Regions from separate parts of the Homo sapiens genome. Here regions 1 and 3 are each linked to region 2. Evidence: fine-mapped expression QTL. A gene starts in region 2. Each other region holds a variant in brackets. All regions are shown on one strand. Distances are from middle to middle.

Region 1 (2,752 bases), 53 kb after region 2:
ACTGTCCCTGTGCCCTCAATTAGCACTGGACAAACACATCCTTCTGCCCCATTCCTTGGCCCAGAACTGGCTCTGACGTCCATGCTGGCTGCACACTCACTGTTGCGTTCTTCCTCCACACCCTCTGCCCGGCCGGCCCTGCCCCTGAGCAGCCTAGTCAGTGGCAGCTGGGTATGGCTGAGAGCTGGGGTTGGGGATGGAAACCCGTGGCTCACCTCGGCTACTGGCCATGGAGCAGCTCTGGGCACCCCCAGTCCTGCCTCGTCTCTCCCTGAAACTCCCAAAGTGGTGGGGGTCTTCCCAGAACACTGCGAGGCATGACCTCCCAGGGCCAAGGATAGAATCCTAGATACCTTTGTTATCCCATCCCCTCACCATGCAGCTAAGCAAGCTACTGGTAGGTGCTCAGAAAATAAAGGGAAAACGTCAAATGTACTGTCCCAAACAGCAGGACGACTCTGAGAAAGGGTCTGAAGAATTCTTAAGTTGCCCAAAGGTCCAAGTCGGGTAGAAGGTGTGAGGACGTCGGGGGAACTGCAGGTTTGCTCCCACCCGCACCCGGTTCCCTATCCCTCCAGCCAGGGATGAGAGGGAGCTGCTGCAGCCCTGCAGAAAGGGAAGAGTGCTGCCAAGAAGGCCAGGGGATGGTGAGGCAGAAAAGGCAGTCCTTTCTCAAATGAAGGGACCAACAGTGTAACGGTCTACTTTGGTAAGGTGTTTACAAAAGACTCTTATACATTTAATCCTCACAAAAGATCTGGGAGGTAGGTGGTCACACCTCCATTCATCCATTCATTCATTCACTCATTTATTTTTGAGATGGAGTCTCATTCTGTCGCCCAGGCTGGAGTGCAGTGGTGCGATCTCCGCTCACTGCAACCTCTGCCTTCCGGGTTCAAGCGATTCTCCTGCCTCAGCCTCCTGAGTAGCTGGGATTGCAGGTGCCCACCACCACACCTGGCTGATTTTTGTATTTTTAGTAGAGATGGGGTTTCACCATGTTAGCCAGGCTGGTCTCAAACTCCTGACCCCAGGTGATCCACCTGCCTTGGCCGCCCAAAGTGTTGGGATTATAGGTGTGAGCCACGGCACCCAGCCTACACCCCCATTTAATGATGAGTCTTTGAGAGATGAGATGACTTGGTAAGGAGTGCAGTTGGAACTGAACCCAGGCCTTCTCTCAAGGAGGACCAAGGAGGCCAGGGTATTCCTGGCATGGGCTGAGATGGGCTCAGAGGTCAGTGGCACCAGGAGGCCCCTGTGGCTGCTCCCCTGCTGGGTGTTCCTGCCCAAGTGAGGCCCCAAAGGGCCTGCATATCAAAGGACATTCCCTAGACTAATGCACTTCCTCTCTGTCTTTACTCCCCCAAATTCCATCATTCTGCTCCTTGTCACCTCGTGGGGATGGCAGACAGCAATATTCCTGGGAAAGAAACAGAGAAGTGTGTGTTTTCACTCTTCATGACTTGCCAACAGTCACACAACAAGCTAGAGGCAGAGCTGGAATGAAAAGCCAAGTCCCTGACTTCTAGCCCCATAGTTCTGGAAGCCTGCAGCCTTGGAGAAAGAT[G/A]GATTCAAGTCCCCCAGACTGTGCCCATCAAGCCTGAGGGACTACCAAGTGACAGGGCAGCAGTAGGGGTGAGTAGGTGGTATGTAGATCTGCAGTCCCTGACGGTTCATTTCAGAAGAGTGGTGCCCAGGGATTCCTTTGCCCACAGATGATCAGGCCCCCTGTGCCTGCAGCAACTCCAAGGTGGTATAAGGCTTTGGAGCAAGCATAGAGCAAGCCTGCTTTTCCAGCCCAAGTGACCCTTTGGGCAGGAAGGACCCAGACATTCAGATTCCTCATCCCACATTTCCCAACCCAGAGCCCAAATAGACCCAAACCACCCCAGCCTCTGGGAGATCTCCTGGATATATTTGGTTGGTCTGGACTCTCCAGTGCTCTGGGCCCCCTCCCCTTGGACTTGTTTCTAGGGAGTTGGGACTGGAGGCCTGCAGACACATAATGGCCAGAGGCCTGATGGGGCAGGGCTAGGGGCTGCTGGGCAGTGATGCCCAATGACAGGCTGGGCGTGGAGCCCAGCGAGCAGATGCTGGCGCAGGTGTGACATCATGCCCCTGGGTAGGTGCCAGTTCTCATGCCGTCACTCCCGAACAGATCCAGCGGCCAGGGGGAAGGGAGCCTGCCTCTGAGCAGATCAATTTGGGACCACTTCCTGCCCACTAGTGGAAAAGCCCCAACTTCCACACCCTCTTCCCGGGCATGGGCAGGGTAAATTCCCTACTTCTCCTATTTTGTTCCTCTACTTACTTTTGTGGCTTTTGAGTTTCATGCGCAGAAGGCAGAGGGGCAAGAAGTGGCTTCTTGGAGTGAGGAGCAGGAAGCGTGTCCTTCAGTCCAGGAGGCCTGGGTCGGCAGGTATAGCTACTGGCATGGGGCCAGCAGTGCTGCCTTCCTCCCCAGAAGTCTGCAAACATTAGTTAGCTGCCTAGGATAGGGGCTCAGTCTGGCACAGAGCCCAGAGGGAGTGGAAGCCCAGCAGCGGGAGGGGAGTGGATCCTCTGGGATTATTCTGAATGCTCTCCCATTTCTGACCTGAACCCATCCTACTGCTAGAAAATGAGACAAAACGGGTAGTTTTGCAGCTTGTTACGTATCTAAGCTCAGATCAGCTGGGGTTGCACTCAGCATCTGGAGGCTCCAGTAGTCTCAAGTGCAAGGCAGTATGGTGGGCAGTGCCCTAGGTTA
Region 2 (2,752 bases):
GGGGAAGAGAAAAAGCCGGAGACCCTGCCAAATTCCGGAGACAAACGGACGGTCAGCCGACAGACAAGATGGCCCACGGGGGTGGGCAGGGAGGTCGGACGGCCGCTCAGAGGGGCAGGTGGACGGTGGCGGCAGGCGCGGGGGCCGGCGGGGCGCGTTGGCGGTTCTCCTGCCACCCCCGGCCCGCTGTCCCGGCCGCTCCGCGCGCCTCATTTCACACCTCGCCGCCCCCGGCCCCGTCTGTGCGGAGCCGGGAATACCCCCGCTGCCCAGACCGCACCTGCTCCTTCCTCGCCGCCCCCTCGCTTCCCGGCGGCCGCCCGCCCCCCAGGGGCCCGCAAGACCCGCGCGGAGCCCGGCCCATCCTCGGGCCCCGGCGCCCACAGCTGGCCGCGGCTGGAGGGGGCGCGCGGAGGGGAGCCCCCGGGGCCTACAGAGGGAGCTCTGAAGCCTGGGCAGCGAGGCGCTCCCGCCCTGGGCCCGGGGCAATGCGGACCTTGGCGCACCGGGCGAGGGCTCCGGCCCGACCGAGCGGCAGCTGCTCCCAGGGAAGGCAGGCGCCGCGGGGGTGGCGGAGGGGTCCGGCGGCCTGGGACGCCGGCCGGAGGGGAGTGAGAGGCCGCTTCACCCGAGGAAGTCAGGCGGCCGGGAGGAGGCGTAGCCGGCTGTGTAGGGCTGGGCGCTCCGTGTGGCCAGAGGGGATGAAGCGGGGTGCAGCGGAGCGAGGGACCCGCGGTGCGCTGGGGCGGCCGCCGGGGCCCGCGCCGAGAGAGACAACGAAATGGACGGAGGGTAGTAGGGTGGCGCCCCCGGGCCGAGGGCCAGCCCAGGTCTGTCCTACCTCTTCAAACGCAGGCTGCCTCCGGCGCCACCGCGGTCCCGGGGGCTCACCAGGCGAGTGGTCTCCAAGCCCCCAGCGGCTGGAGAGGGCTCCATGTTCCCGGTGCCCCGACCGTCTAGGCCCCACCGAGGAAGAGAGAGGCCGGGCCGGCCCCGCGCCAAGTCCGAGCAGCCCGCCGACCCCCGGGATCCCCGCAGGGCGGCGGGGCCACCAGAGTGGAGCGAACTGCAGCGACTGTGGCGCGCGGAGTCCGAACTGCAGATCCCGCTGCCGCCGGAGCCCCGCCCCGCGTGGGGCGAGCTCCCCAAGCTCCGCCTCCAGGCTCCCCGGCCTCTCCCCACCCTTAAGCCCCGCCCCCACTGCCAAAGCCCCATTTCCCCGCGCCAGAGCCCGGGAGCGCCCCGCCACCCGAGTTCTGGAGAACTCCTCATCTCCACAGCCCCGTCCCCCAGGCGAGCTAGCCCCACCTCTGCACACAGTCCCGCCCACCGGTTCCAAGCCTCGCTCCTGAAGCCCAAGAACCTCACGACCAACCTTCGCCCAACGACCACCACTCTGTGCATGCCTGCGCGGGGGTGTCGCCCACCACGCCGTCACCCTGTGGCCGCAACCCTCACGCGGAGGCAGAAACAGGAGCGGACCCATTACCTATCTCCAGAGAACCAGAAAGAACATGAGGTGAGCGGTGACACAGGGAGATTCCAGGGACTCCAGAAACCCCTTTACGGAGAATCTGGGGTCGGAATTCACGAGCCCAGTCTGCTGCCAATCACTGTACCGCGAATGATCATTTATTTTTATACAGAAACATTGGGTGACAAGCTTCCTGCTCTCCTTCAACCCACTGTTATCCCTGCTTTTCAAATGAGTAAACTGAGACCCAGAGGAAGAAGAGTCCAAGGTCATGCAGGCTGTGAATAAAGGGCCCGGCCTGGACCCCCATCCTCTTTCCCTCCCCGGCTCTGGACGCCGCACTGGCAACTGGAGAGCGCTCACAGTTCTCTTACGGGCGGGGGTCCAGTGAAGTCGAGCCGCCTATCTGGTGTCACGGCCACTGTTTATGGAGAGGGGCTGAGGGGCAGCGGGGCAGCGTGTCAGCTAGTGATTCCCATCCTCCACACCTGCAGCGCCCTCCTGGACATTACCGCATTCTGCCTCATTTGGGGGAAACTAAAACCCAGGGGAGGGAGCGACTTACAGCAAAGTCGGTGGCCGAGCCTCAAGTCGAAGCTTCAAATGCTCAATGTTCTCTCCCCTCGCACCTGCCGCCACTGTAGAATGGGAGGGGGTGGGAAGAGGATTGTGCACTCGAAGCTGTGACAGTCTGTGAAGAGGAGGGTCCGTAGGAGGAGGGGAGCGAGTGAGCAGGGATGGGGAAGCGTGGAGGGTGGGAATGGTTAGTGAGCCCAGGCAAGAAACTCATCAGCCGCATCCTTCAGAACACACTGGGCGTCCTGAACTTAGGCTTCTGGGGACAGACACCTACCCTCGATATTGTTATTCCAACGAGCCCAAGAGTGCACTTGCAAAAAAACAAAACAAAACAAAACAAAAACGGGAGCACGTGCCAGATACAGTGGTTGGAAGTGATGGGGTTAACCCGGGAGAGCTTCGCGGAGGAGGTGAGGCTTAAACGGATTAGGAAAGCTGGGCGGCGGGCTGGCTGTTCCGGCGGGGGAGAGTGTGGCTTGGCCCGTGCCAAGGTGTGCGGGCGGCGCGTGCGAAGGGACTGTCCTGCGCCGCTGCTGCAGAGCGGCACGGGAGAGCCACAGGGGCTGCGCGCGCCCTCCGCGCCGTCCCCACCCCCGGCTGCGCCAGCCTCTCCTCCGCGCCAGCCCCCAGCCTCCCCAGTCCAAAGCCCATGAGGGGTGAGGGGGTAAGGGAGCGAGGGGGTCGTTCTCCCTCTAACCT
Region 3 (2,752 bases), 60 kb before region 2:
GCACTCCAGCCTGAGCAACAGAATGAGACTCTGTCTCAAAAAAAAAAAAAAAAAAAAAAGAACTCCAGAGGGCAGGAAAGGCTGCTAGGGGGCTGATGGAGAGGGATGTGTTTTGAGTTCTCTGAGGCTGATCCTTAGCTCTCTCTCAGCCTACAACATCCCAGGAATGACCCTGCGTCCTCTGGCTGCTTGCAAGTCTGTTCACAGTAAAGACGGTCCATCAAAGGGGAATCTCTTACGCCTGCCCCCCGGTCATTCCCCTCAATATAGCTGCCCTTCTCAACTTCCTGTTTCAATCAATTCCTTCTCTCCCTTAAAATTGCTTCCTACCCTCTATAGTTATTACCTGCAGCACAGGTCCCATCTGGGAGGAAATATAGGCCATTCCTAGACAAAGCAGCCCATAGCCAAAGGCTGGGGGAAAAGGACAGGAGAGGAAACAAGAAGGTGTGAGTTAACACAAGCAATGGGGTAAAGCAAGGCTCCCTGCCCAGCCAAACTACCACCTCTGTCTCTCTGGAAACAAAAGGCATATTACATCACGCCCCAGCTTCCTCCCACCAAGTCCTCACTCCTATGTGACTCAGAGACCTCCCTAGGACATGCCCTGAGATGGAAACAACCATGCATGCAGGGAAGGTTGTGTGCTTCATTAGGCAAGTGCTGAGCCCCGGATAAAGTGGGTGTTTTACAGCAAACTGATGACAATGGTCAGGATGAAGCTTAGAAAGACCCAGACTGAAGAGATGAGGAAGCATAACCCCACCAAGGCCTCTGGAAAGCATGATGGCCCGGGCTTCAGAGAACTCAGGGAACCAAGGTCGAATCAGGTCTTCCATCGTAACAGTTGCCAATGAATTAAAAGCAGAGGATATAGTGCTGAAAAAGAGGAAGAGGATGAGGAGTTGAGCGAGGCAAAATTGTCAGCTCTATGGGACTCTATGGAGGAAATGGTGTCCTAAAGCGGGGAGATGACAGGTACCACCAAGAAACCTCCTCATAGTTGGACTTGATGCCACCTCAGAGCGGGCCTGGAAGGCAAGGACACAGTCCTTTTTTGAATGTGGATATGGGTTTCATTCGAGTAGATCAATTTCTGGTACCATAAAAGAACTCTTAACCAAAACAGGGGTATCTCTGTTGTGCTGTGGCCTACAAAGATGAGCTATCCCTTGTCATGCACACAGATGGGGCAGGCACAGTGAGAAACTTAGAGGGATTCCCCACCCACTATCACCCCGCTCCACCCATCACCTTGTACCAAATAGGGGTCAGGTGCACCAGGCCTGAGGGAAATCGTTAAAGTGGGTACCTGAGAGAGCCGCTGAAGAGGCAGGCAATGAAGAGCCCTGGCAGGCCTGGCAGGCCCTTCAGGAGATCCATCACAAAGTACAGGACGAACTGCAAGCAGAGCGGAGGTACACAGCAGTCCTCAGAGAGGGGTCTTCCCAGGGCCGGCTCTGCAGGGAAGCTCCCTTTACATGTGCCCCAGCGAGTCTACCGAGACTGGGTGCATTA[C/T]AAGGGAAGCCAGGGCCTGGGGCACCTCTGCTGACCCAAGTGTCTACACATTAAGTGGAGAGAAAATGAGCTCTACAGAGGGAATGACACAATTCGCCCGCAGCTCTGTTTCTGGCTACTAGTGTGACTTCTGCTTACTGGCTACCTCATTGAGTCTGTTTTCTCCTCTGTGAAATGAGGCTGTTAGAGGCTTAGGTGAGACCAGGTATGTGATAGCTCCCAGCAGAGCACATGGAGCCCAATGGGGAGTCAGTAAGGGTAGGTCCTCACCCCAGTAGGATGAGCACTGTGGTTAGGTGATGCTAGGGACCGCGATCCTCACATGCTAGATTCCTAGCATCTCAGAGTGGGAAAGGATTTTACAACCGTCTCCCACCCAGGGTGGGAGTCCTTTCTGCAGTCAGTCCTTTCCTACCTAGACACTCCTGTTGTGGGGCCAGGCCTGCCCTCATGGGAACAGAACAGCGCCTTCTCACCTGGTCTGGGGCTGCCTGAGCCTGCTGAATGCTCATGGGATACTCCTGGTAATACGCGAACATGACCAGGCCAATGAGGCAGCCCACGCAGAGGGACACCTGCTGGAAGGGGAACACTGCATAACAGGAGCTGCAAAAGAGGTCAGTGCCAGGAGGAGAGCCGGCGTTAACAGACACCCTCAGGTGTGTGCCCCTGACCTCCAGAAAGGAGACCCACATCCTGACCACAGTGGATGTGTATGCACTCTGGCATCCTGCCCCACCCCAATTATCTCTGGGGAACCCCTTCCCCTAGACCTTGCTCCACTCCCTTCCTGTCCCTGCACTCACAGCACAGCAGCCTTCTCCGTGCGGGAACTGAGGTACCGCTGCACCTGAGCCTGGTTCACCCCGTATAAGGAGAGCATCATGAAGACACCCCCGAAGGCCAAGGTCCAGAAGGTGTGCCGCACAAAGGGGTCTGGATCCAGCCTGTAACAGACACCACCCAGTCATTGTGCAAAGCCTGAGAGACACAGCCTTCCTGCCCTCTTGGCAACAGGAGTCAGTGGACAGGAAAGGAGAGACACCACTGCTAGGGCCAAGGGGGACACTGAAAGCAAGAAGCTGGGTGCACTCGAGAGACAGCACAGCCAGTTAGAGGGAGGCTCCATTCTTCCACCCCAGGCTCATTCCAGGTACTCATCCCAGGTAATGTCCTGACTCTCTATAAACACTAGCCGGGCACCTGTAATCACCCTCCATCTCTGCAGGACCAG

Alleles and levels. Positions count from the first base shown, and alleles are read on the strand shown. Sizes are in standard deviations (SD) of each study's normalised expression. Not every link is listed here.
For the expression in atrial appendage of the gene that starts at base 1,077 in region 2, allele G in region 1 goes with a lower level than allele A (moderate effect, 0.62 SD a copy in GTEx).

The links. PIP is the estimated chance that this variant, and not a neighbour inherited with it, causes the effect.
Region 1: its variant is the best candidate, but not a certain one, in a credible set for the expression of SLC30A3 in atrial appendage (GTEx, PIP 0.71).
Region 3: its variant is the best candidate, but not a certain one, in a credible set for the expression of SLC30A3 in lung (TOPMed, PIP 0.80).

Annotation. Positions count from the first base shown.
Region 1 is chr2:27,314,764-27,317,515 of GRCh38, forward strand. All of the region lies in intron 2 of MPV17 (mitochondrial inner membrane protein MPV17), which reads right to left. Among named protein-coding and RNA genes, the nearest start is that of MPV17, 7.0 kb to the right of the region's middle. The variant G/A (reference allele first, on the strand shown) is at 1,571.
Region 2 is chr2:27,261,971-27,264,722 of GRCh38, forward strand. It overlaps SLC30A3 (solute carrier family 30 member 3), which reads right to left and starts at 1,077. Exons shown (of 8, transcript NM_003459.5): 1 at 842-1,077. The coding sequence starts at 936. RefSeq lists silencers at 632-791, 842-1,021, 1,042-1,111, 2,586-2,675.
Region 3 is chr2:27,202,467-27,205,218 of GRCh38, forward strand. It overlaps SLC5A6 (solute carrier family 5 member 6), which reads right to left. Exons shown (of 17, transcript NM_021095.4): 8 at 2,325-2,465; 9 at 1,995-2,124; 10 at 1,313-1,401; 11 at 767-879; 12 at 347-414. Among named protein-coding and RNA genes, the nearest start is that of ATRAID, 8.2 kb to the right of the region's middle. The variant C/T (reference allele first, on the strand shown) is at 1,519.